Linked DNA regions of Homo sapiens: regions 2 and 3 are each linked to region 1. Evidence: fine-mapped expression QTL. A gene starts in region 1. Each other region holds a variant in brackets. All regions are shown on one strand. Distances are between the middles of the regions. Region 1 holds the start of MADD (MAP kinase activating death domain). Region 2 overlaps MYBPC3 (myosin binding protein C3). Region 3 holds the start of NUP160 (nucleoporin 160).

The links. PIP is the estimated chance that this variant, and not a neighbour inherited with it, causes the effect.
Region 2: its variant is fine-mapped to the expression of MADD in subcutaneous fat (GTEx, PIP 0.94).
Region 3: its variant is fine-mapped to the expression of MADD in lymphoblastoid cells (GENCORD, PIP 0.95).

What each region holds. Positions count from the first base shown.
Region 1 is chr11:47,264,736-47,275,521 of GRCh38, forward strand. It overlaps MADD (MAP kinase activating death domain), which reads left to right and starts at 5,398. Exons shown (of 37, transcript NM_001376571.1): 1 at 5,398-5,511; 2 at 9,092-9,241; 3 at 9,828-10,424. The coding sequence starts at 9,180. It overlaps NR1H3 (nuclear receptor subfamily 1 group H member 3), which reads left to right. Exons shown (of 10, transcript NM_005693.4): 8 at 3,178-3,291; 9 at 3,526-3,620; 10 at 3,815-4,298. The coding sequence ends at 3,961. MADD-AS1 (MADD antisense RNA 1) reads right to left here and starts at 7,375. Exons shown (of 3, transcript NR_120569.1): 1 at 7,341-7,375; 2 at 6,344-6,406; 3 at 5,922-6,245. RefSeq lists enhancers at 503-797, 4,580-4,689, 5,163-5,457 and silencers at 4,840-4,949, 5,160-5,689.
Region 2 is chr11:47,339,707-47,347,706 of GRCh38, forward strand. MYBPC3 (myosin binding protein C3) reads right to left here. Exons shown (of 35, transcript NM_000256.3): 8 at 7,945-7,974; 9 at 7,720-7,773; 10 at 7,321-7,323; 11 at 6,921-6,938; 12 at 6,501-6,664; 13 at 3,786-3,918; 14 at 3,554-3,556; 15 at 3,315-3,439; 16 at 3,124-3,229; 17 at 2,872-3,038; 18 at 2,285-2,450; 19 at 1,432-1,538; 20 at 1,297-1,326; 21 at 1-84. Among named protein-coding and RNA genes, the nearest start is that of MYBPC3, 9.0 kb to the right of the region's middle. The variant G/T (reference allele first, on the strand shown) is at 4,838.
Region 3 is chr11:47,847,447-47,858,232 of GRCh38, forward strand. It overlaps NUP160 (nucleoporin 160), which reads right to left and starts at 904. Exons shown (of 36, transcript NM_015231.3): 1 at 773-904; 2 at 402-513. The coding sequence starts at 872. RefSeq lists enhancers at 842-1,401, 2,864-2,913, 2,944-2,993. The variant CT/C (reference allele first, on the strand shown) is at 6,180.

The DNA of each region.
Region 1 (10,786 bases):
TCTTATTTCATGAGTGAGGTCTTGGGGAGAAGGAACAGGAGCTCTGCTTGTCAAGTCTCCTCCCCTCCCTATCCGCTACTATTTACTGCATGCAGTAGATAACTGGTGACATGGACTGAGCACATTTGAGGTGTTCATTCCGTGGGCATCAGCAGACCCTCAGAGGTGCATTAGCTAACTATAGAACCTCCTCTTAATTTCTCTATAAAGGGGGCTGTTTGCCACACTTTGGGGCTCAAAACCTCACCAAGAAATGCTTTAGAAAATGGGGCTTGCCGCCGGGCGTGGTGGCTTACACCTGAAATCCCAGCACTTTGGGAGGCCGAGGCAGGCGGATCACCTGAGGTCAGGAGTTCGAGACCAGCCTGGCCCATATGGCAAAACCCCATCTCTACTGAAAATACAAAAATTAGCTGGGCGTGGTGGTGCACACCTGTGGTCCCAGCTACTCAGGAGGCTGAGGCAGGAGAATTGCTTGAACCAGAAGGCTGAGGTTGCAGTGAGCTGAGATCGCGCCACTGCACTCCAGCCTGGGTGACAGAGCAAGACTCCATCTCAAAAAAAGAAAAAAGAAAAAGAAAATGGGGCCTGCCCATTAAATGGACCAACACACAACACTTGATAAACATCAGGGTGAAAGTACAGGAAGTGACTCACCAAGAAGCCTTGAATGGAAAAGTGTAGCAGATGGTTGCTAAAAGAAATCTGACAAAGCCTGGGGAACTCTGTAGGGTGCAGAGACTTTGACAATGTGTATGAGAGACATTCTCTAGGTATCATTACTTTAGCTCATGTTTTGTTGCATTTTAGTCTTCTCAGCAGGAAGACTGTTTCCAAGAAAAATGTATTATTTATTGACCAGGCGCGGTGGCTCATGCCTGTAATCCCAGTACTTTGGGAGGCCGAGGCAGGCAGATCACGAGGTCAAGAGATCGAGACCATCCTGGCCAACATGGTGAAATCCTGTCTCTACTAAAAATACAAAAATTAGCTGGGCGTGGTGACATGCACCAGTAGTCCCAGCTACTCAAGAGGCTGAGGCAGGAGAATTGCTTGAACCTGGGAGGCAGAGCTTGCAGTGAGCCGAGATCATGCAACTGCACTCTAGTCTGGCAACAGAGCAAGACTCTTTGTCTCAAAAAAAATTTTTTTATTTATTTTACAAACACTTATGTGGTAGTTACCATATATGCCACATATTTATGAGATAGGTACTATTATTATTCCCATTTTACAGATGGGAAAACCAAAGCCCAGAGAGGTTAAATAACTTACACAAGGTCACACTGCCTTGTAAGTGGTAGAGGCAGGACTCAACCCGAGGCAGTCTGGCACCAAAATCCACATCCTCACCCATACTGCAATATTCCCTCGAGGATGTGATACATGAAATGTATCTCTAGTGTTCAAATAAGTAAGGCCAATGCCAGTGAAAAACAAGTCTTTTTTTTTTCTTTGAAACAGGGTCTCGCTCTGTCGCCCAGGCTGAATGCAGTGGTGTGATCAATCATGGCTCAATGCAGCCTCGACCTTCTGGGCTCAAGTGATCCTCCTTGAGTAGCTGGGACTACAGGTGTGAACCACCGTGCCCTGCTGAAAAAGGATTTTTTTTTTTTTTGAGCCAGAATCTTGCTCTGTCGCCCAGGCTGGAGTGCAAGTAGAACAATCTCGGCTCACTGCAACCTCCACCTCCCAGGTTCAAGCAATTCGCCTGCTCAGCCTCCCGAGTAGCTGGGACTACAGGTGCGCCACCATGCCCAGTTAATTTTTGTATTTTTAGTAGAGACCGGGTTTCACTGTGTTGCCCAGGCTGGTCTCAAACTCTTGAGCTCAGGCAATCCGTCTGCCTCGGCCTCCTAAAGTGCTGGGATTATAGGGATAAGCCACCGCATCCAGCCTTTTTTCTTTTTCTTTTTTTTTTTTTGAGATGGAGTTTCGCTCTGTCATCCAGGCTGGAGTGCAGTGGCGTGATCTCGGCTTACTGCAACCTCCGCCTCCCAGATTCAAGCAATTCTCCTGCCTCAGCCTCCTAAGTAGCTGGAATTACAGGAGTGCACCACCACGCCCAGCTAATTTTTGTATTTTCAGTGAGACAGGGTTTTGCCATGTCGGCCAGGCTGGTCTCAAACTCCTGAACTCAGGTGATCCCCCTGCCTCGGCCTCCCAAAATACTGGGATTACAGGCATGAACCGCCGTGCCTTGCTGAAAAACGATTCTTGATAAACAAAAATAAGAGTTGCCTCTATTTCTAGAAATGTGGAGCCCTCAAGAATTTTAATGACAGAATTGGCAGGTGATGGTGTCTGGTGCCTGTAATCCCAGCACTTTGGGAGGGCGAGGCGGGTGGATTGCTTGAGTCCAGGAGTTCGAGACCAGCCTGGGCAACATGGTGAAATCCTGTCACAACTGAAAATATAAGAATTAGCTACTTGTGATGGTATGCACCTGTAGTCCCAGCTACTAGGGAGGCTGAAGTAGGAGGATGGCTTGCACCCGGGAGGTCGAGGCTGCAGTGAGCTGTGATTGTGCCACTGCACTCCAGTCTGGGTGATAGAACAAGACCCTGTCTCAAAGAAAAAAAACAAGAATACCAGAATTATTATTTAATTCAGCACCTCTTGTGTGCCAGACACAGCGCTAAGTGCCCTGCATACTTTGTCATTGAACTATACCAACAATTTTCTGAGAAGGGTTCAGATATGATTCCCATTTCACAGATGAGGCTTATAGAGGGGTTAAGACATTTGCTCAAGGTTACACAGCAAAGCCTTGTAGACCTTTTTTTTTTTTTTGACGGAATCTCGCTCTATCGCCCAGGCTGGAGTGCAGTAGTGCAATCTTGGGTCACTGCAACCTCTGCCTCCCGTGTTCAAGCAATTCTCCTGCCTCAGCCTCCCAAGTAGCTGGGATTACAGGCACCTGCCACCACGCCCGGCTAGTTTTTGTGTTTTTAGTACAGACGGGGTTTCGCCATGTTGGCCAGGCTCTTCTCGAACTCCTGACTTCAGGTGATCCGCCCGCCTCAGCCTCCGAAAGTGCTGGGATTACAGGCGTGAGCCACTGTGCCCGGCCTCAGTAAACTTCTTAGTGAGTTCCTAATAGTTCCCTAAGGTGAGGAGAGAAGAAAGTTCCTGCTGCTCCTGCTGCTTGCGTCAGCCTCCCTTCTTCCTCCCCAGGGCTGCAAGTGGAATTCATCAACCCCATCTTCGAGTTCTCCAGGGCCATGAATGAGCTGCAACTCAATGATGCCGAGTTTGCCTTGCTCATTGCTATCAGCATCTTCTCTGCAGGTGTGGAGGAGGGGCAATGGGAAACAGCAAGAGACTTACACCAAGGAGGGCTGCAGGTCCCACAGGAATCGGTGGGGGGAGGGGGGTGGTGGCTTGGGAGGGTGGAGGCATTTGCTGTGTTATTTTAGGATGAGAGAGCTTGGCTGGAGCATGTCTCTATATTTTGGTTGCAATTTGGGGTATGGAACTGGACCCTGGCCAGACCTGCTCCTCAACTCTCTTGGTGACCTATAGACCGGCCCAACGTGCAGGACCAGCTCCAGGTAGAGAGGCTGCAGCACACATATGTGGAAGCCCTGCATGCCTACGTCTCCATCCACCATCCCCATGTGAGTCTCCCCATGGTGTTCCTTTTCCTCCTTCCCACACACAGGCCCATTCCCTGACATACCTACTTTCCCTTCAAGAATTTCTCTCTGACTGCATGCTGTGCAGACAATTCACCTCTCCCACAACTCCCCTACTCTTGCCCCGCTTCCCTGGGGACAGGCAAAAGCTGTGTTTGTCTCTCTCCTTTCCCCAGGACCGACTGATGTTCCCACGGATGCTAATGAAACTGGTGAGCCTCCGGACCCTGAGCAGCGTCCACTCAGAGCAAGTGTTTGCACTGCGTCTGCAGGACAAAAAGCTCCCACCGCTGCTCTCTGAGATCTGGGATGTGCACGAATGACTGTTCTGTCCCCATATTTTCTGTTTTCTTGGCCGGATGGCTGAGGCCTGGTGGCTGCCTCCTAGAAGTGGAACAGACTGAGAAGGGCAAACATTCCTGGGAGCTGGGCAAGGAGATCCTCCCGTGGCATTAAAAGAGAGTCAAAGGGTTGCGAGTTTTGTGGCTACTGAGCAGTGGAGCCCTCGCTAACACTGTGCTGTGTCTGAAGATCATGCTGACCCCACAAACGGATGGGCCTGGGGGCCACTTTGCACAGGGTTCTCCAGAGCCCTGCCCATCCTGCCTCCACCACTTCCTGTTTTTCCCACAGGGCCCCAAGAAAAATTCTCCACTGTCACTCTGTGGTATGGCCATAAATGCCTCAGCGCCGCCTCACTGATAGGTCTGGTACTGTTTGAACAGGAAGATCAAAATGAATACAAAATGAGAGAAACCAATTTCTGGATTGGGGGTGGGGACACGGTAATAGAGGAGGAAGCCTGCGATCTTTAGGATCCGCCTCCAGGCCCAGAGGAGGGAGAGTCACAAATGACAGCCTTGGCCGTGAGAGGGGGCCTCTTCTTACTAACCCCCACTGCGCCATATGGGTAAATGGAATGCTGAGGCTTAGGCGCCCCCTTCCCCTGCTGGGATCCGGGTAGGATCCGGTTGCCTTTCTGCGGTGGAGGAGGAAGTGTTGGATTTCAGCGCTAAGGCGTCGGCGGTGCACCTCACGTGCATGTGTAGCATGCCTTGGTTTTTCCTTTGGCATCTGAAAAAGGCACAACCTGAAAGACCTAGAACCCAGTGTCGGTCCCCAGGCCCTTTGGGACAGGAAGAGAAGAGCCGTGTGGCCGCGGGGAGGATGTCCTGAGGCGGGGCTGTCCTCGCGGACTGACTGGACTCCATCTCCCAGCGGGCGCCGCGGCGCGGCCACGCCCCCCCACTCCCCGCGCGCGCCCGGTGGAGGTAACCGCGGCCGCGCGCCCCCCTCTGCCCCCGCTGCCCAGGATTGGTAGGCTCCACCGCTCGGCAGCCGGCTTCCCTGCTCGGACGCCGAGCACCGCCAAAGCGCGTGAGTGGGGGGTGGGGACTGGGGGATGGGGAGCCCGTCAGGAAGTCTCAGGGGCCGATTATCTTGGGAAGTGACTTTCAGAGGAATCCCCATGTCGTCGAAACGGGCGCTATGACCCCGTCGGGTGAGAGTCTCTCTGAGCAACCCAAACAGAAGGTACTGCTGTGGGTCCCCCACTTGGCACGCGACGGCGCTGGGTCGGCCTGGCGCGCCCTCCCGCGCCCACGGGCGCTAGGCTAGGTCTGTGCGCAGCCGCTGTCTCCCGAGGTCGGCCCCGCCCCGCGGCGCTCGGCTCGGTGCAGCCCCGGCCCCCCGGGCTGAATGGTACGGCCCCGGCCCCGGCCTCCCCCTCCGCACCCCGCGCGAGTGGTGCGTGCCCCCCAGTGCAGACGCGGAACTGGCGCCCGCTCGGAGCGGCGCCGCGCTGGGGAGCGACTGACGCCCCGCTGCCGGGGGACGTCGGGCTGGGCCTGGCCAGTCCCCCAGAGCTTGGGAGGTAGGAGAGTCTGGGCCGGTGGGGTCCTGGGCGAGCGTCTGGGGACTCCGAGCGGGAGACGGGCTCTGAGAGGACACCGTGGCTCTTGGAGGAAGGGGTCTCTCAGGAGGCCCTGGGGGAGTGTGAAGGGGCGTGGGGACGGGGGTCTGCCGAGGAGGGGCGGGGACGGGGATGGGGGCGCCCCGGGCAGAGGAGGGGGCTCAGGCTACTGGGCTTGGTTCCTGCCGAGCGGGCGGCTCGGGTTCAGGTTCGGGGCGGGGGCGGGGGCGGGGGAGAACTGTCCAGCAGGTGAGGGGGCGGGCAGAGCTGGCCAGCCCTGGGGCCGAACCCGCACAGCGCTTGGCGGGTGTGCTTGTGCGTGTGCGTGCTTGCGCCTTATTTTTGGCTAGAATTTGGAGAAACACGTTTGGTTCTCAAGAAATTTTTTTTTTAACTTGATATTTCAAAATTGACTTGCTGGAGAGAGAACACCATTTCATCTTTCTGCAATCGCTCTCCTCCCCATCCTCGTGTATCTACCTTCTTCCACCTTTCCCTGCCCTCCCCTCTACCCCAACCCTGCCAGCTGCCAGCCTCCTTGCTCCAGTTCTCCCATACGCTGGACCAGTCTGTGCTGATGAGCTTGCAAGGTCACTGCCTGGGGAGGTAGAGGAGGGGAGGAGAGCCTCCTGTTGTGTTCACGTCAGCAGAGATGTCATATCGCTCTCTGGTTCCTGTGGTTTTACTGTGAGATCCTGTCCAAAATGAGGGACGAATCCAAAGGGTTGGTTAGCATGGCTATTTCTGCTGAAAAGGCATAGATAACTTAAAAGTTTGTGAATCCTAAATCTACCTCTGGGTGGAGCTGATGGTGATGTCGGACTTCAGCAGATAGATATGCATTTTGAGCTGGATGCTTTTGGAATACAGGAAGATAGGAACCAGAGGCTCTACGTTAGTAAACATGGTTGAGGCAAGAGGCAGAGTCGGAGCCTCGTTGGTTGTGAAGACAAGAGTGTGAGTTGTGGGTGATGTTAGAGGATTTAGTCTTTAGAGGAGTTAAAGGTGTTAGTCTTTTTGGGGAGGGGAGAGAGGAGAGAATGAGAAGGAAAATCTTAGTTATCTTTGCAATCTGAATAACTGAAGGCAGTGGCTGCTGATCAGATGTGAACTCTGGCTAAAAATTTATCCTACCACCCGTAGCTAGAATAATAACAAGATCTCAGGGTCCTTGTGGCTCTGGAAGGAAATGATTGTGAGTGACTTGAGTTTCGTCAGATAGTTGTCAGTGGAGAGGGACTGAGATCCCACCAAGGCTAGAGAGGCCTGATGCGTACTCAGTAGGAGGTGCTTCAGGCCTGATCTTTGAGATTTTGGTTGGAGAGGGCTCCGGGTTTTCAATGTAAACATAGATTGCAAGGTGTAGTCTAGAGCTCTGGTTCTATAAATTCTGTTTTACTTTAAGATACTTTGGCTCTCACTCTAGTCATTTCTACATAATTCTTTTTTTTTTTTCGAATCCCATGACAGGTTAACTACATAATTCTTTATTAAAACAAATTATGCTTTTTACTCATATCCCATTTCATTTCTCTATTTCTCTCCCCCTTGGATTCTGCTCAGGAGGAGCTGAGTGCGGCTCTGTTATAGTGCCCCACCTCCTGCAGTTTGCTCATGACTCTATTGCAGTTGGGAGAACCAAGGGACTATTTGGGTTCGTTAAGCAGTGGTGATACCTAGAAATGAATATATGGCGTGCTCAGAAACCTGGTGGTGTTCTAGAGATATCACTATCAAAAGCCAGAATTAGGACGAAGTACAAACTACAGACAGATGAGGGAGAAGACAACCTAATTCTTAGCAGGTACTGTCAGTGGGAGAAGTGTCTCTAGGTTCGAGGAGAGTGAATTGTTATGGGCCTTGGCTGACTCTGGAGTAGCAGCTGCTAGCACTGTGCGGTCACCAAGCAGGGGAGGGGCTGTGGCTCTGCTATAAATAGTGCTGGGAGCCAGAGTCGCTATAGAGATAAAACTGAATCCTATTACCTGCAGGTCCTCTACTGGGAGCAAGGGAAAGGAGAAAGCAGTATTTTGAGGATTTGAGAGGTATTGCAAATAGGTCTTGTTTATTGTTAGGTAGGGGAGAAAAAACTTCTACTCATTACCTAAACCAAATAGGGCCTTAAGCATCCAGGGAGTGTGTATGTCTGTATATATGGGAGTGCCCGCAGCAGCAGGTGAGGGAGTAGAGGGTGTGTGTGTGTATACGATAATGGGTTTCTCTCCGTGTGCATTGAACAAGGTCTTAGGCCGCATGTAGAGCACAGAGGTAGAATCCTGGAACACTAGAAATATGAGAAAAGAACTTCTACTCATAGAAGAAGTAGCCCTACCAGAAATAGCTGTGCAGCGGGGTGAAACGTTTTATTTAGAGAAGTGTATAGACACTTAACACGAAATAAATTATAATTAAGACCATGAAAGCTTTTCCTAATTTTAGGACATAGTTTAGAAATTTCTCTGAGCACGTCTCCCTGTCCTTGCAGAAATCCTGGTATTTCTGCCTCTAATTCATAGCCTCTGTAATGTATAGTAGGACAAGGACTCATCTGTGGGTATTGTATTACTGATTCTGAGCCTGAGATCAAAATAGAGGAGAGATTATGATTCAGCACCAAGGGCAGAGCTAGTAGCAGTGGCCTCTGGGCTCCTTTCTTGCCTGAAGGAGGGAGAAAAGTGGTGCAGATTAGGCAATTGGGGCATGGACATTTTCATTTGAGATCACATGAGGTAGAATAGCCAGCTGTTATTGTCTGAGCATGGTTAACTAGACAGTCTATGTGGTAGTTTTACATCAAGCTGAATGTAGATTGTTGAAACAGAATAATTAAGTTTCCATCTAGACCTAGAAGTGCAGGTTAGTGCTAGCTAGTTGAGGAGTCTGGTTTGATCCTGATCCACCCTGGAGGGATCCTGAGAGTGACTTCAATTTTTGTTACAATGACTGAGTCCAGATTAGATGGCCTAGGTCTGTTTTTCAGAAACAGAGCCCCAGGCGTTAAGCTGGAAATTAAGTCATTGGTAGGGATAGGTAGGTGAACCATTATTTATCTACATTTTTTTTTTTTTCTTGAGACGGAGTCTCACTCTGTCACCCAGGCTCGAGTGCAGTGGTGCGATCTCAGCTCACCACAGCCTCCACCTCCTGGGTTCAAGCGATTCTCATGCCTCAGACTCCCGAGTAGCTGGGATTACAGATGTGTGCCACCACACCCGGCTAATTTTTTTGTATTTTTAGTAGAGATGGGGTTTTGCCATGTTGGCCAGCTGGTCTCAAACTCCTGACCTCAGGTGATCCGCCTCGGCCTCCCAGAGTTCTGGGATTACAGGCGTGAGCCACCATGCCTGGCCTATCTATTTTTTAACATTCGATTCTGTGAGCTCATGAGCCTAGACACGAGGCTAGGCAAGCGTCAAGTTCTCCTATCATTAGTATGAAAGTGGAAGACCTTCTGACCTCTGCCTCTGGCCGGGAAGAAGTTGAGAGGGATGAGTCCCTTAGGCACAGCAGTGGATCTTATCAGTACTTTTTTTCCTATTAGACTTCGATTTTCAGAATTCCTCCTGGGAATGCTGACTCCTTGCTTGGTGCCCTGATGCTTCTCTGAGATAAACTGATGAATTGGAACCATGGTGCAAAAGAAGAAGTTCTGTCCTCGGTTACTTGACTATCTAGTGATCGTAGGGGCCAGGTAACCAAGAAGAGATTGACTTTTGTCTTAATATCTGGGATAGCCATAAAATCTGCAGTTGTTCCCTTCTCCGATTTCCATGTTGCTTTGCATAGCTCATCTTCTCCTGTTATTTTACCCTGATGGGAGCATCGAAGCCAGTAGGGAAAAAACAAAATCAGGTGGATTGAAAGCAAAACCCTGCTCTTAACTAACATCTTCTTGATGTCGAGCAAATATACTCTTTATACCTCAGTTTTCTTATTTTGTAAAAAGAAAAAGTACATTATAAGCTACTCCTCTATGTATACTTTTTTGGTAATTTATTAGTTAATTCACTTTAAAAGATGTTAATCATCTTAAGGTGCCAGTGATAATTTTATTGTCAAAATCTCCCCTTCGTTTCAGAATAGATGCCTTCATGACAGTGTAGACTTCACTTAGGTTACCAGCTCCATGCGGCAGGCAGCACCCATATTTTCCAAGGTGTTACAGTCAGGTTACTTTATCCAAAATAGCATCTTGAGCTTTATTTGTTGACTGTGGTTAAAATTTGATAGCCCATTCCATCCCTTCAGGCTGCTGAATTTGTCTTTATGTTCTTCAGGCACCCGAGCAGTGATAGCGTGGCCCAGACTCCTGAATTGCTACGGCGATACCCCTTGGAGGATCACACTGAGTTTCCCCTGCCCCCAGATGTAGTGTTCTTCTGCCAGCCCGAGGGCTGCCTGAGCGTGCGGCAGCGGCGCATGAGCCTTCGGGATGATACCTCTTTTGTCTTCACCCTCACTGACAAGGACACTGGAGTCACGCGATATGGCATCTGTGTTAACTTCTACCGCTCCTTCCAAAAGCGAATCTCTAAGGAGAAGGGGGAAGGTGGGGCAGGGTCCCGTGGGAAGGAAGGAACCCATGCCACCTGTGCCTCAGAAGAGGGTGGCACTGAGAGCTCAGAGAGTGGCTCATCCCTGCAGCCTCTCAGTGCTGACTCTACCCCTGATGTGAACCAGTCTCCTCGGGGCAAACGCCGGGCCAAGGCGGGGAGCCGCTCCCGCAACAGTACTCTCACGTCCCTGTGCGTGCTCAGCCACTACCCTTTCTTCTCCACCTTCCGAGAGTGTTTGTATACTCTCAAGCGCCTGGTGGACTGCTGTAGTGAGCGCCTTCTGGGCAAGAAACTGGGCATCCCTCGAGGCGTACAAAGGTACAGTTTGCTGCTGATGCCTAATGGGGGAAGCATTTAGAGATTCCATGTAATTGGTCTTTGAGGGGCATAGGAAATTTCCTCTACAGCTCAAGGTCCTTCAGACCTATTAAGCATATTTAGAGTATTTAGAGTTAATCTTTTTTCTTTTGGAGACAGTCTCGCTCTGTTGCCCAGGCTGGAGTACAGTGGTGCGATCTCGGCTCACTGCAACCCCTGCCTCCTGGGTTCAAGTGATCCTTCTGCCTCAGCCTCCCGAGTAGCTGGGATTACAGGTGCACGCCACCATGACCAGCTAATTTTGGTATTTTTGTAGAGACAAGGTTTCGCCATGTTGGCCAGGCTGGTCTCAAACTCCTCAC
Region 2 (8,000 bases), 74 kb after region 1:
CGTCCAGACGTAGCTTATTTCCAGCTACAACCACAATGGTGTCTGGTATGCGGCCTGGGCAGTCCAGGTGGATCTTGGGAGGTTCTGCAGAAGACACAATGTAGTTCAGAGAAACGGGAGAGCCAGGAGGAGCACAGGTCACTGGGGCGGGGCTGCTCAAGAGCCTGGGCCCCTGGTTATTGGTTTTTTAGATTTGTATTGAGGTATAGTTTATGCTCAGATCTGACAGTAGGCTGAGTTCTGACAGATGAATACACCCATGCAATTATTAATCCAACCAAGATCTGGAACATTCCCATCACCCCAGGACGTTGGCTGGGAGGCTTGTAATATTCAGGTCAGGTCACCTAGCATAGCATTTTGAAAACTGGGGGAACATCAGTGTCTTGCCACACACATACACACACACACAATACACACACACACACGCATATACACATACACACAGACACACATACACATACACACATGCACACACAGACACACACATGCACACAGACACAAATACACATACATACACGCACACACACAGACACAGACACACATATATACATACACACACAGACACATGCACACACACACACGCGCGCACACATGCACGCACACATGCACACATTAAAAAGGTTCCCTGGCCAAATAAATCAGGAATCTGCCCTCAGTTAAACAAAGCAAAGCAGTCTGGACGCAGTGGCTCACGCCTGTAATCCCAGCACTTTGGGAGGCCGAGGCAGGCAGATCATGAGATCAGGAGATCGAAACCATCCTGGCTAACATGGTGAAACCCCGTCTCTACTAAAAATACAAAAAATAATTAGCTGGGCATGGTGGCGGGCGCCTGTAGTCCCAGCTACTCAGGAGGCTGAGGCAGGAGAGTGGTGTGAACCTGGGAGGCGGAGCTTGCAGTGAGCCGAGATCGCGCCACTTCTCTCCAGCGTGGGCGACAGAGGGAGACTCCGTCTCAAAAAAAATAAAAATAAAAAAAAAGGAAGAAGAAGAAAAGATGTAATAATAACAGTCACACATGTGACAGCACTTGACAGGTCTGATACATCATGTCACCTCATCTTTATAACTATCCTATGAGGTGGCACTATCAGGGTTCCCATTTTAGAGAAGAGGAAACTGAGGCTCACAGAGATTATAATTGACCCATGGTCATGAGTGGCAAAGCTGAAGCTGGGCCCCAGGACCCCCACTTTTGATCCTTGCTCTTCCCTCTGTGAGTGGAGGGGAGGCCTGCGTGGGTGGGTTGCGGGAAAGTGAGCAGAACCAAGACTCAGGGGCCCCAAGACTTACCCTGCCTGGGTACGAAGTCAATCTTGACCTCTGCAAGAGAAGGAAGAGCAAGTAGCACGGGGGCAAAGGCAGGGCCCAGTGACAGGGGCTCCTGGCCCCACTGCCCCGACCCACCCTACCCTGGAGCAGGCTCACCCATGAAGTGGAGCTTGGCTGACAGGTTGCAGGCGAAGCCCTCGGGCACAAAGCTGTAGTCAGCCTCGTCGGCAGGTGTGACGTCGTCAATGGTCAGTTTGTGGACCCTGCAGGGGAGCAGTGGCTCAGGGGACCCCACTGGGCCACACACCCCTGGCCTTGCCAGATACCCCAGCCAGGGTCCCAGGAGGCCCTCACCTTGTCCTGGCTTGTTGGTATTCTGATTTTTAAAAATGCCTTTTTTTTTCTATATTATCTAATTTTCCAGCTTTTTAATGTGCCTTCAGAGGTAGGCAGCGTAAAAGTGATTTCTACATCAAAGCATCTCCTTGGCTGGGCCCTTGGAGACTGGGCAGGGGCTGGGTCTCATTAATCTCTGTGAACTTGGGCCCAGCACGGCCAGCCCAGTTGCTCCAGGGATGAGCAAGAGGGCGGGAGAGGCAGTGAGGGCCTCTGGCCAGAGCCGGCCTCCTTGGTGGCCTCCTGCCCTGCCCTGGTCACAAGCTGGGGGAGGGTGCTGGGGAGCGCTCGACCCCGTCCGTGTCTCTCCCTGCTGCCTCTTTGTCTCTGTCCCTCTGTTCTTCTCTGTCTCTGACGAACTCTCCTATGTGTGTGCCTCCCTGTGCATATCTTTCTGTCTCTATAGAACTATTTCTGTCTTTCTGTCTCTTTGTCTTTTTGGGTCTGTCTGTTTCTCCCTCTCTGTGGGTCTCTGTCTCAGTCTCTGTCCTGTCTCTGTGCATCTGCCTCTCTGTCCACCTGTCTTTATCTCTCTCTCTCTGTTTCTCCCTGTGTCTCTCTCTGTCTCCATCTCAGTCTCCACCTGTCCCATCCACCTGCCCTGCACACTCACCGCCCGATGTGGGACACCTTTATGCGGCTGTCGGGCACCAGCTCCTTCCCATTCTTCAGCCACACACCCCGAACATTCTCATCTGAGACCTCACATTTGAACACCGCCTGGTCCTTTGCGCCCACCATCAGGTCTGCGATGCTCTGGTACACCTCCAGCTTCTTTTCTGCAGGGCAGGGCAGAGCCATTGAGCTCGGGAGGGTGTGTGGGTGTGGCGTGAATCCCTGTGGAGGGCGTGTGGGCCCATGGGCGCTGGTGCGCACGTGTCTGGGTGCATGTGGGCATGTGAAAACACGTGTGCCTGTGTGTGCCATGTTTGCCTGTGATGGTGCAGTGCACATAAGGAACCTCAAGTGTCTGAGGGGTGGTGATGCTCACCAGGCCCGTATGACCCTCTCAGTACCCTCTGGAGCGGTCACCTCAGCATCGTCATTTTAGAGATGAGAAGGATGAGGTTTAGGCTGTCAAAGGCCCAAGGTCACAGAGGCCTTGAGCCCAGGTTTGCCTGCTCCCCTACAGGGCTAGGTGGGGTGGGGGCTGAGGGGTCCAAGCCCTAAAGCCTCATGTGCCCCCCCAGCCAGGCTCACCCTGCACAATGAGCTCAGCCAGCGCCTGGCCCCCGCTAGTGCACAGTGCATAGTGCCCCGCGTCCTCCAGCATGGCCTCGTTGATGATCAGGTGGTGTCTCTGCCCGTCCTTCTTGAACCGGTATTTGAAGGTCTCCTCCCGGGTCAGCTCCACCCCGTCCTTCAGCCTAGCCGGGTGGGTGGGTGGCAAGTGCTGTGGCCTCTTCTGGGCAGATGCCCCCAACACCCATGCCCCGTGCTTCTGGAACTCACCATTTGACTTGCGCCCCCTCCTCCGATACTTCACACTCAAACTCCACCCGCTGCCCCACCATCACCAGCTGGTCCTCCAAGGGGCGCGTGATGAGCACAGGGGGCTCTGTCCAGGCAGGGTGAGCATGAGGGTTGGCTCCCCTGAGGCCATCTCCTCCCCAGGTTCCCACATCCTCAGGTCCCAGGCCCACCTTTCACAAAGAGCTCCGTGCTACACTTCTCGCCACCCACCACGCACTGGTAGGCTGCGTCGTCCGCCAATGAGCACTGGCTGATGGTCAGGGTACGCTTGGCACCGATGGACTCAAAGATGTACCTGGGTGGGGGCCGCAGGGAAGTGGCAGGAAAGCTGCGGACACCCCTCCGGGCCCAGTGCGCCCCATGATAATCCCTGTGCCCCCCACCCCAAGCCATCCAGAGGGGAACTTACTTGCTGTAGAACAGAAGGGGCCGTTGAAGTGTTCCCGACGGGAGGAAGTGAGCCCGAGACAAAAGGAGAGAGAGAGAGGGACCGGCAGGAGCAAAAGGATGGGAAATTAGGCCCAGAGAGATGGGGCTGAGAGCCACACCGAGTCAGAGATACGCATGTGGAGAGGGGCAGGAGGCAAGGCTATGGGGGTCCCCACCTCCACCCGAGCCCCCCTCCCCACCCCAGGCTGCACCTGCCGCTCATCTGGATCTCCTGGCCATTCTTGAGCCATTTGACCTCAGCGTCATGGTCAGCCAGTTCCACGGTCAGCCGGATCTTGTGGCCTTTGCTCACCTGGTAGGCCGGCTCCAGCTTCTTCTGAAAGGCTGAGCACCACCCCTCAGCCCCGGCCACCCCACCGCCCGCACCCTGCTCCCCCAGGCCAAGCTACTGTGGCTGTGGCTGGGGCCCAGGTCCCCCCCTCCAATCCCCTCTGTGCCGCCCCGCTTCCACTTCTCTGTGTCTCTATTTCTTTTTGTTTTGTTTGTTTGTCTGTTTGTTTGTTTTTTGGACAGAGTCTTGCTCTGTTGGCCAGGCTGGAGTGCAATGGCGCCATCTTGGCTCACTGCAACCTCTGCCTCCCAGGTTCAAGTGATTCTCCTGCCTCGGCCTCCCGAGTAGCTGGGATTACAGGCATGTGCCACCACGCCCAGCTAATTTTTGTATTTTTAGTAGAGACGGGGTTTTACCATGTTGGCCGGGCTGGTCTTGAAATCCTGACCTCAGGTGATGCGCCCGCCTCAGCCTCCCAAAGTGCTGGGATTACAGGCATGGTGTCTTCATTTCTTTATCTGTGTCTATGTGTCAACCCACCTCCTTGTCTCTGTCTGTCTGACCTTGTCCTTCTGTCTTCCTTGGGGTCCTCTCCACCTGCTCAGCTCAGGGATTGGGTTAGGGGCTTCCAGAAAGACAGAAGCTTGTCAGGAGAACTGGGGCTGGGACAGCTGTGCCTTCTCTTCTCTCAGCAACCCCTGAGTTGTGTACTCTTCCCAGGCGCTCCCACCTAGCAGCCCTCTGTGCCCAGCACTCTCACTCCCATCTCAGCCCCCAGGGCCAGTGCGGTGGTCCCCATGCTGCTGCAGTGGGGGAAATAGGGCTCAGAGAGGCGACTGGCCCAATGCCACCAGCCCAGCAGGTGTGTGGCAGAGCTGGGTCTTGAGCCCAGCCCTGCTCCACAACAATGCCTCCTCTTGCGGCCGTGTTTGTAAAAGCCCATGTTGCTGCTGCTGAGCCCAGGGAGGAAGT[G/T]GGGGCTCCATCCACCGAGCAGAGAAGGACCCCTGAGTCCTCAAATACTCTGGCTGGGCCTGGAGTCAGCTGCGGAGGGGCAGAGATCTACTGCTGGGTGCTCTGTGACCTTGCGCTAGTTCCTTAAACCCTCTGTGCCTCGGTTTCCTCAGTAACATGGAAATGGTAATAGTCCTTCCATCATAGTGTTGTTTCGAGAATTAAATGAGATAATTACATAAAGCACCTAGTGGCTGGCTTAGGAAGGAACTCACTCACTTTTTTTGAGATGGAGTCTCATTCTGTCACCCAGGTTGGAGTGCAATGGCACAATCCTGACTCACTGCAACCTCTGCCTCCCGGGTTCAAGTGATTCTCCTGCCTCAGCCTCCGGAGTAGCTGGGATTACAGGCGCCTGCCACCATGCCCAGGTAATTTTGTATTTTTAGTAGAGACGGGGTTTCACCATGTTGGTCAGGCTGGTCTTGAACGCCTAACCTCAGGTGATCCACCTGCCTCGGCCTCCCAAAGTGCTGGGATTACAGGCGTGAGCCACTGCACCTGGCCAGCAATTTGCTCTTTTTACTGTTGTTGCTATTCCTGGAAGACACCCCTACCCTCGGAGGTCCCCATCTGCCTTGCCAGCCTCCATCTTTTCCTCCTTGGGCACCTACAGTCCTTTGCTTGGTGCCCTCTGGGCTCAGCAGTTCAGGAGTTAACCCAGAGGAACATTGGTGGCATTCAGGGGATCCCTGGCTTAAATGGGGCCACGGTGCCGGTAAGGGCCAGGCCACCTAGCGATGGGGTGATGGGAAACCCAGTGAGGCTGAGACAACAGGGAGGCAGGGCAGAGGGATAAGGGGCCTGGGGGAGGTCAGCAGGGAGGGACTAACCAGCTCCTCTCCCCGTCCCCATGATCGTGTGTGTTTTGTGTGTGTGCTTTGGGAGGGGCTTGTCTCCCATATCCTGCATGGAAGCTGACCCCTCCATTCAGTCGGTGTTTATAGAGCGCTCGAGGTGTGTGCCAGGCCCTGTGCTAGACCCAGACATGGTGGGGAGAAGGCATGTGAGACCCCTGCTTTCCCGGCTCACACCCGCCCTTGTCAACCCCTCAGTGGAGAAGGGCTATTCCTGGGCTCTCCTCTTTCCATCTGCCTGGGGGTGAGGGTAGTTAACCCAAGCCCTCCTGCTTTGTTTGCCTGAGAGAAAGATTAGCCAGGCTCTTTTCTTTGCCTGTGTGTGGCTCTCCAGGCTTAGCGGGCCTCTTCCCTTTTCTTTTGGGTGTGGAGAGGGTTAACCGGGCTTCATTTCTTTTCAGAAGAGGGTAGAGAAAGAAAGTGTAGCCTGATTTTTCCTTGGTGAGGAGGGTTAACCTGAGCTCTGTCCTTTTCCTTGTGGCTGTCCTGGCCTAACTTTTGCTCTTCTCTTCTATCTCTGTGGTAAGGGGCTAACCTGGGCATTCTTGGCTTTTTCTACACAAGGAGGGGTTAACCTGGGCTCTTCTTTCCTGTGAGTCTCTGTGCTAAGCCGGACTCCGCTCTTTCCATGTATGTGGACGAGGTGGGGGGCTAACCTGTGCCCTCTCCTCTCCCCTGTGGGGAAGGGCTAACCTATGCCCTCTCCTCTCCTGTGTAGGGAAGGGCTAGCCTGTGCCCTCTCCTCTCCCCTCTGAGGAAGGGCTAACCTGTGCTCTTCTTCTCATCGCGCCTCATGCCCTTGAGCCTCTTTAGCATGCCGCGCAGGTCAGTGACGCCGTACTGGAAGGCGATGCGCTCGTACTCAGATGGGGGTGCCTGCCGTAGGATCTCCCACACGTCCTCCTCTGCTGGTGCCTCCAGCTTCGAGTCCCTGTGTCCCGCAGTCTAGGCTGTGGCCGGGGGCAAGACTGCAGCCCCCTGGGCGGGGCTTCCTGGGCCCAGGACCAAGGAGCTGTAGCCACCCCTGTCCCTCTGCCCCTTCCCTTCTGGTGGGGCAGCTGGAGCTGCTCTGGGTCCCAGGCCAGGCAGGACTGGGGGCCAAGGGAGCTGAAGAGGGGCTGGGGATCTGGAGGGGCTCCTGGCAGAATTAGGGGTGATGAGGGTGCTGTGCTATGTTGGGCACTCACCTCGGGGTCCGGAAACTGCTGCTCCAGGGGTGGGGGTGGGAGAAAGGGTAGGTGGCACATGAGAGGTATGGCCACCTTCCCTCAAAGACCTGGACCCCACCCATGGGCCTTTACTTCCTCCCTATTTTCCGCACTTGCACTCCCTGTGTTGTGGGGCACCCATGCTGCTCCGGAGGCTCTGGCAGGACCTCCTGTGTGCATTACTTTTTCTTATCCCTCCTAAGCTCTGACAGATAGGTGGGTGGCAGGAGAAGCCCAAGGCACAGAGACTCACCCCTGTCCGTGGGGAGCCGCACCCTGCTCTGAGTCTCTCACCACAGCCTCTCAGAGAGGGGACGGGAATCCCCTCTGCACCCACCAGCGCCCTGCCGCCCCCAAACACCCAGACCCCGATTCTTACTCTCTGGGCCACAGCAGCAGCAGCCATAATGGAGGGGCCGGGGGAGAGGGAGAGAGAGGGCAGAGAGAACATAAGTCAGTTGGGCCGACCTGGTAGACCCTGCAGCTCTGGGGACCCTCTCTCTGTTCCTTCTGGGTCCCCGGAGTTTACGGAGGGAGCTTTTGCAGCCTCAAGTGTGGAGTGGCCGTGGGGGACACTGTGAGGATGACTGTTGACGGGACATAATGTCTGCAGAGCCCTTTAACTCCTTCCACACTGGGATCATCCCCTCGACAGACAAGGAAACCAACTCAGAGAGGTGCAGTGTTGTGCTCAGGGTCACACAGCTGGCAAACCACAGTGCTGGGATTTGGAGCCAGGCCTCACCAGCTGCCCCAGGAACTGCCACCCAGGACTCACCTCTTTTTCAGCAGTGAGCTGAAGTCCAGAATCCCAGTGTCCTCATGGCTATCACTATGGAGAGGGACCCCCAGTGAGGCTGCAGTGAGGGACTGGAAAGGGATTAGGAGCAGGATGGGAGTGGAGTGGGGAGGGAGAAAGGGACACTAGCCAGATTGGGCTCCCACCCGTCTCAGACCCCTGGGGGTCTGCGGATGGTGCAGGTAGGGCCTGGGGCAGGGGTACCTGATCCGCCGACCACCTCCAGCCAGGCTCCTGTGGGGGTTAGACTCAGTATCCTC
Region 3 (10,786 bases), 580 kb after region 1:
TTGCAGTTTTGTTCATTTCGTCCTGGTACCTAGCACAATGCCTGACATATTGAAGCTCGAACGTATTTGTACAATGAAGGAAGCTGTAAAGCACTATAAAAACATAACGGGTTCATGTTTAAAATTGGTCTTATGGGCTTTATTCCCCTAAGCTACATTTCCTCTGCTTCTGGTGTTGCTTGGTGTATGTGTGTGTGGGGGTGGGGGGGGGGAGGGGGAGAGGTATCTCTTCTAGAACTCTGTGTCTCAGTTTTCCCGATTCTGATACGAACTGAAAAAACAATCTTTCTCTTTCCCTAAGTGTCAATTACCGCTTCTAGAATAGCACTTTGGGTACAGCGACGAAAATTTATACACCAAACCCTACCTTCCAGGGGAGTTTGGCGAACCACAACACTTACCAATGAATGAACCTGTTTCTGGTTACGGAGAACAACTTGCCACTCTCCACGTAGTAAAAGCCTCCCGCGCTTTCACTGTATTTTACGGCGCCAGCCACGGCATTTGCAGTCCCTGCAAAATGAACGTGGTCAGCCTGCACACGCGTCTTCTGAGAAATGACAGGGACTAAGGGAGCTGACAAAGCAGAGAGTGACAGACTGACAACCCATACAAAGAAAAGAGGAAAACGTCGGACATCAAGGAATCTCTGATCCCGGGGCTAGAGGCATGTGGACTCAGGAGGATGAAACAGGGCGTCAGGGACCCTGGGACCCATGAGAGGAGCCCGAGGGGACAGATGGGATCGCACCCTCCCTGGCCATTTCCGTACCAATGCTGCAGACTGTGAATTCCCGAAAGTGCCTCGGCCTTTCGCGCTCAGCTCCGCTTAGCTCCACGAAGCTCCGTTCCAGGGCTCCCGCCGCCGCCATCTTCCCGCCGTCGCCGCGACGCCCAACGGAACAAAGGCAGGGCCGCGCGGTCGCCGTCACTTCCGGGGGTGGGGCGGGCGGAGCTGCGGACAGGTGAAGCATTCCGGGAGCAGAAAGGCGGCTCCGGCCCTTCGTTGCGAGGCTTCCACCGGGAGAATGAGGGTGGGCAGCGAGGAATCCAGAAGAGAAGGGGGCAGGGGAGGCAGACTCTATCTGCGGGAACCTTCCAGTGGCCGGCTGGAACGCCTCCGGAGGGCGGTGCTCTTTTCTCAGCGGCCGCAGGGCAGGGGGCGGGGCCGGGTTTGTTTCTGTTTCTAAAACGCGGGGCTCAGTCGACCAGGAGGGGCGAGGTCCGGGGAGTCCCGGCCTTTCGGCGTCCTCTGCCGGATCCCGGGTTTATGGTCACCTCTCCCTCGGTTAGGGTGTCCGTCTGTAAATCTTTGGCGATCCTCCCTTCGCTCTTCAGTGGCGACACTTGGGATGGCGGGGTGAGGAAGGGGTAGTGAGGGAAAGGCCTTTGGTTTTGGTCTTTCCCCTCCCCAAGAGACTGTATTCGTGTATTCCTGTATAATGAAACGTAATGTGGTAAACCTTGGTGCTGCCACTTGCTGAGGTTACCTGAGTGCTACTCACTTGGATACGTGAAAGGAATTTGCCATTCCTTCCACCCGTGATCTTGCACTTGGCTGTCAATGCAGTAAGGGCCCATAGTGGGTGTTTAGAAGATATTGTGGGAGTAGATGTTCAAAATCGAGGAAAATGCTAATCTCCAGCGGGGAAGGTTTTGTTCCTTAGTGATAGCCAATAGAAGTTAAAGCACTTCTATTACCAGTGACCACAACCATTCCCTGTCATTCTCCGTTTCATTTATCTGGTTCCGACCATCATTTTCTATCTTTCCACTTCACTCCCTCTGGGACACCAACTTTGGCAGTGCAGTCCCCTCATTCTACCTGGAATCCATTGTTCTACAAAATCTTCACTGTCCCACACTTCTTTGGTGTTTCTTTCTTATCCTGAATACCATTAAATTACTTCATTGCCTAACTCTTCATCGGTAAAAACTACAACTTCGACTACATTCAAATCTGTAGCTGAACATGACTGGAGAAAACTATACACCCGGGTCGGGCGTGGCTCCCAGCATTTTGGGAGGCCAAGGCGTGAGGATCACTTGAGGTCAGGAGTCCGAGACCAGCCTGGCCAACATGGTGAAACCCGGTCTCTACCAAAAATAGAAAAATTAGCCGGGCGCGGTGGCTCACGCCTGTAATCCCAGCGCTCTGGGAGGCAGAGGTGGGTGGATCACGAGGTAAGGAGTTTCAGACCAACCTGGCCAACATGGTGAAACCCTGTCTCTATTAAAGATACAAAAAATTAGCCGGGCATGGTGGTGCACGCCTGTAATCCCAGCTACTCGGGAGGCTGAGGCAGGAGAATCGCTTGAACCTGGGAGGTGGAGGTTGCAGCGAGCCAAGATCGCGCCACTGCACTCCAGCCTGGGTGACAAAGCGAGACTGTCTCAAAAAAAAAAAAAAAAAGAAGAAAGAAAAAAAGAAAAATTAGCTGGGCATGATGGTGCGCTCATGTAATCCCGGCTACTTGGGAAGCTGAGGCAGGAGAATCGCTTGAACCCGGAAGGTGGAGGTTACAGTGAGCCAAGATCTCGCCGTTGCACTCCAGCCTGGGCAACAAGAGCGAAACTCCGTCTCAAAAAAAGAAAAGAAAGAAAACAGAAAACTATACACCCATACTGACATGCCTCCCTGTAACTCCATCAGGACCATGTACCTTGAGTGGGCCCATAATGCTGCCCAGCAAACACATTGTATTTGCCTTCTCCATTTACTGTTCTAAATGAATATTTCATAACTCCTATAACCTCCATTGCCTCCTTTGTCATCCTGACTCTCAGCTTGCTTCTTCATTTAGAAAATTAAAGCAGAGGCTGAGATGGAAGGATGGCTTGAGGCCAGGAGTTCAAGACAAGCCTGGGCAACATACCCCCATCTCTAATAAAAATTTTTAAAAAACTAGCCAGGCATAGTTGTGTGCCTCTGTAGTCCCAGCTATAGGAGGTTTCTTGAGCCCAGGAGTTGGAGGATACAGTGAGCTACAATCCTGCCACTGTGCTCCAGCATGGCCAGAAAGACACCCATCTGGAAAGAAGGAAGGAGGAAGGGAGGACTTCCTCTATAATGACATCTCCCCACCTACCAGCATCTGTAACCACATATTTTGCCTTCCCTTCCTGTTACTATAAACTGTCTCTGAGCTTATGCAGAGACAACCTTTCTACTTCCTTAGAACACCTGCTCAAGGACATCATTCTAGCAATTCAATTATTTCCATTTTCAGTCTTTTCCCCTTTTCTCTTAGTACTGTATGTACTAAGCATACAAACATTCCCTCGACCTCCACTCTCTGCAGCTACTACTCCATATCTCTTCTCCTCTCACCCACAGCAAAACTCAAGAGTGTTTTAATTCCTTCTCTCTCATTCTCATATATATATATATATATATATATATATATATATATATATATATATATATATTTTATTGAGATGGAGTTTCGCTATTGTTGGCCAGGCTGGAGTGCAATGGCACAATCTCGGCTCACTGCAACCTCCGCCTCCTGGGTTCAAGAGATTCTCCTGCCTCAGCCTCCCAAGTAGCTGTGATTACAGGCATGCGCTGCCCTGCCTGGGTAATGTTTTTTGTATTTTTAGTAGAGACAGGGTTTCACCATGTTGGTCAGGCTGGTCTCGAACTCCTTACCTCAAGTGATCCACTTGCCTCGGCCTCCCAAAGTGCTGGGATTACAGGCGTGAGCCACTGCATCTGGCCTCATTAAATCCATGTTTTTCAGGCTTTTGCTTCTACTGCCTTGCTGAAACTGCTTTTTTCCGGGTTATCAATGGCATCCACATTATCTGTCTAATACTAAACTGCTATTTCTTTTTTCTGACACATAATCTTGCTCTGTTATCCAGGCTGGGGTGCAGTGATGTGATCCCAGCTCATTGCAGCCTCAAACTCCTGGGCTGAGGTGATCCTCCTGCCTCAGCCTCTCGAGTAGCTGGGGCCACAGGCTTGTGCCACCATGCCCTGCCAAATTTTTTATTTTTTATTTTTTGTAGAGACAAGGTCTTCCTATGTTGCCCAGGCTGGTCTCAAACTCCAGGCCTCAAGCGATCCTCCTACCTCTGCCTCCCAAAGTGCTGGGATTACAGGCGTGAGCCACAGCACCTGGCCTGAACTGTTATTTCTAAGCTTATTTGACTACTTGTAGAATTTGACCAATTGCTTGCTCCTTCCTCGTGGAAACACATTCTTCATGTGGCATCAAGGACGCCACTCTCTTGATTCTACCTATTTCACTAACTGTTCCTTTTCAGACTCCTTTCCTAGATGCTCCTCTTTTCCCCAACCTCTTGATGTTGGAGTGTCCAGAGTTCAGTTCTTGGTCCTTTCCATCTACAAACACTCCCCTGAGAATCTCACCCAGTCTTCTGGCTTTAAATACTGCATTGTTATATGCCGATCATCCCCAAATGTATACCTCCAGTCTAAGCTTCTCCCCCGAAGTCCAGGTTTATATATTCAACGGCCTATTTTGTATCTTAGATGTAACATGTCTGAAACTGAAGTCCTAACCTCTCTCCCCACACTTACTTTCCCCATCGCAGTTACCAGCACTGTTCCAGTTGCTCAGCCTCCTGAGTAGCTGGGATTACAGGTGCTTGCCACTACGCCTGGCTTATTTTTTTTGTATGTTTAGTAGAGATGAGGTTTCACAGTGTTAGCCAGGATGGTCTCAATCTCCTGACCTCATGATCTGCCTGCCTCGGCCTCACAAAGTGCTGGGATTACAGGTGTGAGTCACCGCGCCTGGCCACACTTCAACTGTTATTATTTACAAATTCCTGGTTATCTAAGTTATAACTGCTCATGACACTGATGTGCCACAGTAGAGAGAACTATTCCGAAGACTGATTATTTCCACTTTCATATCTAGAGGTCAGACCTCTTTTGCCGAGTTCTCAGCCTTTTATATTCAGTTGCCTCCTTGATGCCCCTTGGATTTCCCATGGACATCTCAAATTCAACATATCCAAAATGTTACCCCTCTCTATATAGTCTCACTATATACTCTCACATGTAGTCTATATCTGTGTGGACATCACCACTGTGGCCCAGTCTAGAAATCTAGTAATTACCCTGGACTTTTCTCTTTTAATCCCAACACCCAAATCTCATATATCCATATGGCAAAAGAAAGATGGCCACAAATTCTTTGACATTGTTCCCATCCAGAAGTGTAGCCTTCTTTGTCCCCTCCCCTTAAATCTGGAGGGTTCTGTAACTGCTATAAGGAATATAATACAGCAAAAGTGATGCTGTGCCAGCCTAGCTTAAGAGAGTCTACATCTCTCTTTGAAGACTGGCTATAGGGGAAGCAAGCTGCCATGTAAGAAATTTGGCTACGCCGGGGCCATCCTAGGCAGATTGCAGGGAGAGACCACACACAGAGACTCTAATTCTACTTGAAGTGAGAGATGCCTGGTAAGTCCCCAGGTCCCAGATATTTTGTAGAGCACAGATGAGTCATGACCACTGAGCCCTGTCCAAATTGCATATTAATGAGCTAAATACATGATTGCTATTTTTATTTTTATTAAATTAAATTAATTAATTAATTAATTTTGAGACAGAATCTCACTCTGTCGCCCAGGCTGGAGTGCAGTGGCTCAATCTTGGCTCACTGCAACCTCCAGCTCCTGGGTTCAAGTAGAGGTGGGGTTTTACCATGTTGGCCAGGCTGGTCTCGAACTCCTGACCTCAAGTGATCCACCCGTCTCAGCCTCCCAAAGTGCTAGGATTACAGGCATGAGCCACCGCGCCCGGCCTCAATGTACATATTTAATGTAGTAATGTTTTTTCATTTTTTTCTCAGAAAAAAATGTTAAATTGATGAGGCATGTTTCGGTTTTATAGGAATCTAGGAATTACATTTTTTGACAGTGAACACTTTTTAGCTTTAGATCACTGTCTTATCTCCAACATCCATCAGAATTCCGGGAACTTCACGTTACCTAATAAATGTTTGAGGAATAATTAAATGAATGAATAAGTGCATATATGCATTTTTGGAAAACTCAAATACCCTTTGAACTATTAATGTTCTGGGGGATGGTTATAACATAAATTGAATCATATTGCCATCTAGTGGTTAGGTAGTGACTTCGTTTAGAAACAAAATGCAGAATGTTACCAATATTGTGCAGCAAGTTTTATTTAAATA[CT/C]TTTTTTTTTTTTCAGATGGAGTCTCGCTCTGTTGCTCACACTGGAGTGAAGTGGCGCGATCTCTGCTCACTGCAACCTCTACTTCCCAGGTTCAAGCGATTCTCCTGCCTCAGTCTCCTGAGTAGCTGGGATTCCAGGCACGCACCACCACACCTGGCTAATTTTTGTACTTTTAGTAGAGATGGGGTTTCACCATGTTGGTGAGGCTGGTCTTGAACATCCGACCTCGTGATCCGCCCGCCTCGGCCTCCCAAAGTGCTGGGATTCCCGAAGGCGTGAGCCACCACGCCCGGACTTTTTCTTTATTTTTTTTTTTTTGAGACGGAGTTTCGCTCTGTTGCCCGGGCTAGAGTGCAGTGGGGCATGATCTCAGCTGACTGCAATCTCTGCCTGCTGAGTTCAAGTGATTATCCTGCCTCAGCCTCCTGAGTACCTGGGATTACAGGTGCCCGACACCACGCCCGGCTAATTGTTTTATTTTTAGTAGAAACAGGGTTTCACCATCTTGGCCAGGCTGGTCTTGAACTCCTGACCTCGTGATCCACCCACTTTGGCCTCCCAAAGTGCTGGGATTACAGGTGTGAGCCACTGCGCTCAGCTGAACAATACTGTTAATTGAACTTTAAGCAGATTTTCATAACCAACTTGATAGCTACTCCTTGAAAGAAGAATTTGGTGGTTTAAACAAGTGTGGGAAATGATGATAAATAAAGTTAAACATATTTCTTTCTTGAAGAACTTTTCAAAGACATTAATATAATAGCTTTGTGAAGTTCCAAGAAGGCCTTATGCATGATACTGCTTTCCAGACTCTTTGACATACAGAATACTCTTTTCAAGGGGCAACTCATTGGACCATTGTTCTTTGAGAATATATTTTGGAAAACATGGCTTTACTTTCATTTTGCCCATAGGTTAAAAATATCAGCTGGGCATGGTGGCTCACACCTACAATCCCAGCATTTTGGGAGGCTGAAGCAGGAGGATTGGTTGAGCCCAGGAGTTTGAGACCACCCTGGGCAACATAGTGAGACTCCATCTCTACAAAAAAAAAAAAAATTATCCAAGTATGGTAGTGTACACCTGTAGTTTCAGCTACTTGGGAGGCTGGGGCAGGAGGATCCCTTGAGCCCAGAAGTTCAAGGTTATAATGAGCTATGACTGTGCCGCTGCACTCCAGCCTGGGTGACAGAACGAGACTCTGTTTCTAAAAAAAAAAGCAGAATTGTGGAATAAATGAAGTATGTCAGTGACTTCTCAATTCCGTTTTCAGTATTCTTTCTACCCACTTAGGAAACCACCATGACTTTAGACTCCAGGGCCTTTGAGGGGCCCTGAAAGCCCAGGGCTCCCACCTAGACTTGACCCTCCTGTGCTTTGGACTTATCCTTGGGAACTATACACCCTGGATTGTTTTCACCTTTCAGGTAATATTTTCTATAAATTTCTCTTTTTTTACTTTTTTTTTTTTTTTCTGAGACAGGGTGTCACTCTGTCGCCCAGGTTGGAGTGTAGTGGCCTGATCTCTGCTCACTGCAACCTCCGCCTCCCAGGTTCAAGTGATTCTCCTGCTTCAGCCTCCCAAGTAGCTGGGACTACAGGCGTGCACCACCACGCCCAGCTAATTTTTATATTTTTAGTAGAGACGGGGTTTCACCATGTTGGCCAGGCTGGTCTCAAACTCCTGACCTCAGGTGATCCTCCCATCTCGGCCTCCCAAAGTATTGGAATTACAGGTGTGAGCGACCATGCCTGGCCTTTTAAAAATTTTTTTTTAAATTTTTTGAGACAGAGTCTTACTCTGTCACACAGGCTGGAGTATAAGGTGCAATCTTGGTTCATTGCAACCTCCACCTCCCAGGTTCAAGCAATTCTCATGCCTCATCCTCCTAGTAGCTGGGATTTCAGGCGTGTACCTCTAACAACATTTTTGTATTTTTAGTAGAGATAGGGTTTCGCCATGTTGGCCAGGCTGGTCTCGAACTCCCGGCCTCAAGTGATCCCCCACCTTGGCCTCCCAAAGTGCTGGGATTACAGGCGTAAGCCACTGTGCCCAGCCAATTTTCTGTAAATTTCAATTATGATTCATTATATGATTAGTTAAATGTTACTTCTGTATCTTTGTAGGAGCTTACATGTAATTTAATTCACAAAATCAAAACAAACTCTTGCTAAGGTGGGCGAGGTGGCTCACGCCTGTAATCCCAGCAGTTTGGGAGGCTGAGGCGACAGATCACTTGAGGTCAGGAGTTCAAGACCAGCCTAGCCAACATGGTGAAACCCCACGTCTACTAAAAATATAAAAAAAATTAGCCAGGCATGATGGCATGCACCTGTAATCCCAGCTACTAGGGAGGCTGAGGCAGGAGAATTGCTTGAACCTGGGTGGTGGAGGTTGCAGTGGTGCCATAATGAGCCAAGGTGGCACCACTGCACTCCAGCCTGGGCGACAAAGCAAGACTCCATCTCAAAAAAAAAAAAAAAAATCCTCGCTTGAACCATATGTTCTGAGTTTTACTTCTGAAAATATGAATGCCTTACCTATTAAAACTAGCTCTGGTATAACTGGAAATGAGTTGACATTATAGTAATTCACACTGAGGTGCTGATGACTATAAAAACTTCATAAATTGCCTTTCCCAGAGGTAAGTCATGGCAACATACACTACCTTAACTGGTAGGGCATTGCCCCTCCTCCCTCTCTTGCTAATCAGTTGTGGGAGTCCTTTTCTACTGCCTCGGTATCATTTTCAACAGAGTGATTCAGAGAGCTATCAGCTGACTGGAATTGGCACGTTATCTATATACTCCACTTACCATCTCATTCAAAGGGATTAAACTCTAGTGGTGGAATTGGAGGCATCAACAAAGAACCAGATGTGCAGGTAGCCTCAGTAGGGGCAGTTAAGTTCATCTCAGTAAAATATGTTTAATATTAGTCTTTTTTTTTTCTTTTTTAAGATAGAGTCTCACTCTGTTGCCCAGGCTGGAGTGAAGTGGCACCATCTCCACTCACTGCAGCCTCTGTCTTTTGGGTTCAAGCATTGTCCTGCCTCAGCCTCCCGAGTAGCTAGGATTACAGGTGCTCACCACCACGCCCAGCGAATTTTTGTATTTTTAGTAGAGACAGGGTTTCACCATGTTGGCGAGGCTGGTCTTGAACTCCTGACCTCAGGTGATCCACCTGCCTTGGCCTCCCAAAATGCTGGGATTACAGGCGTGAGCCACCGCGCCTGGCCAATATTAGTCTTAAAAAACAAGGTGGGCCAAGCATGGTCTCGCCATGTTAGCCAGGCTGGTCTCGAACTCGAGGCGGGCACAGGAGTTTGAGACAAGCCTGGGCAACATGGCGAAACCCCATCTCTACATAAAGTACAAAAATTAGCCAGGTGTGGTGGTACATGCCTGTAGTATCAGCTACTCTGGAGGCTGAGGTGGGAGGGAGGATGACCTGAGCCCAGGGAGGTTGAGGCTGCAGTGAGCTAGCTGAGATCACATTACTGGGCAACAGAGACCCTGTTTAAAAAAAAAAAAAATCAAGATCAAAAGTTGATCCAGTAAAAAGGGTTATTTGCATGTATAGAGTCCAAAAGTGCTTTTTTTTTTAGACAGGGTCTTACTCTGTTACCCAGGGTGGAGTGCAGTGGCATGATCAAGGCTCGCTGCAACCTCTGCCTCCCAGGTTCAAGTGATTCTCCTGCCTCAGCCTCCCAAGTAGCTGGGATTACAGGCTCGCACCACCACGGCTGGCTCATTGTTTTGTATTTTTAGTAAAGACAGAGTTTTACCATGTTGGTCAGGCTGGTCTTGAACTCCTGACCTCAAGTGATCTGCCTGCCTCGGCCTCCCAAAGTGCTGGCATTACAGGTGTGAGCCACTGTGCCTGGCCTCAGAAGTGCTTTTTAATATAAAAGTGTACAATACAATTAAGAGGCTAGAAATTCAGATATTTGAGTAGAGATTCTCACCTATATCTAGACCATCTTGAAGTTGCACCCACTTCAAACCCTCCCTTCTCATTCGGTTCTGTCTTAAAACCTCAGGGCTATCACTTCCTTTGTTGCTGCATGATCATGGGCAATGCCAATCAATGTGCTCACGTCTTTATGTCTTTCTCTGCAAAATAATGATGGCAATAAATATCAGTTGAGAGATTTTTGCAGTCTGTTTCATTCTTTTCTCTTTTCATCTGCTCCTGAGAGTTTTTTTTTTTAATATCCTTCTCCTGTGCTACCCCTACAAAGAATAAAAAGCTTCAAATCATAAAAATAGGATGAGTTTTTAGAAGTATCACTCCTTCCTCATTTTGCCTGCCAAGTTTCAATTTGGTGCAGGTGCCGAAAGATGTTTATAGGCAAATAAAATAAGTCACTTCCACGTCTCAGAGCAAGGATGCTCAGTGACCCGAATAGGGGTTAGAACTTTGATGAGAGGCTCCAGTTTGAGGTCAGAGGCCAATGCTTTTCCAAACCCCCAGACTTTAGTCTTGTTTTGGCTTGCATTTGTCACTGCCCAAATCTTGCAAGAATTTCTGGCAATTAAATTAGTCAAAATGTGTGACTACAATTTCAGAGCTGGCAAAGCCTCTATGGGCAGCCACAGGTC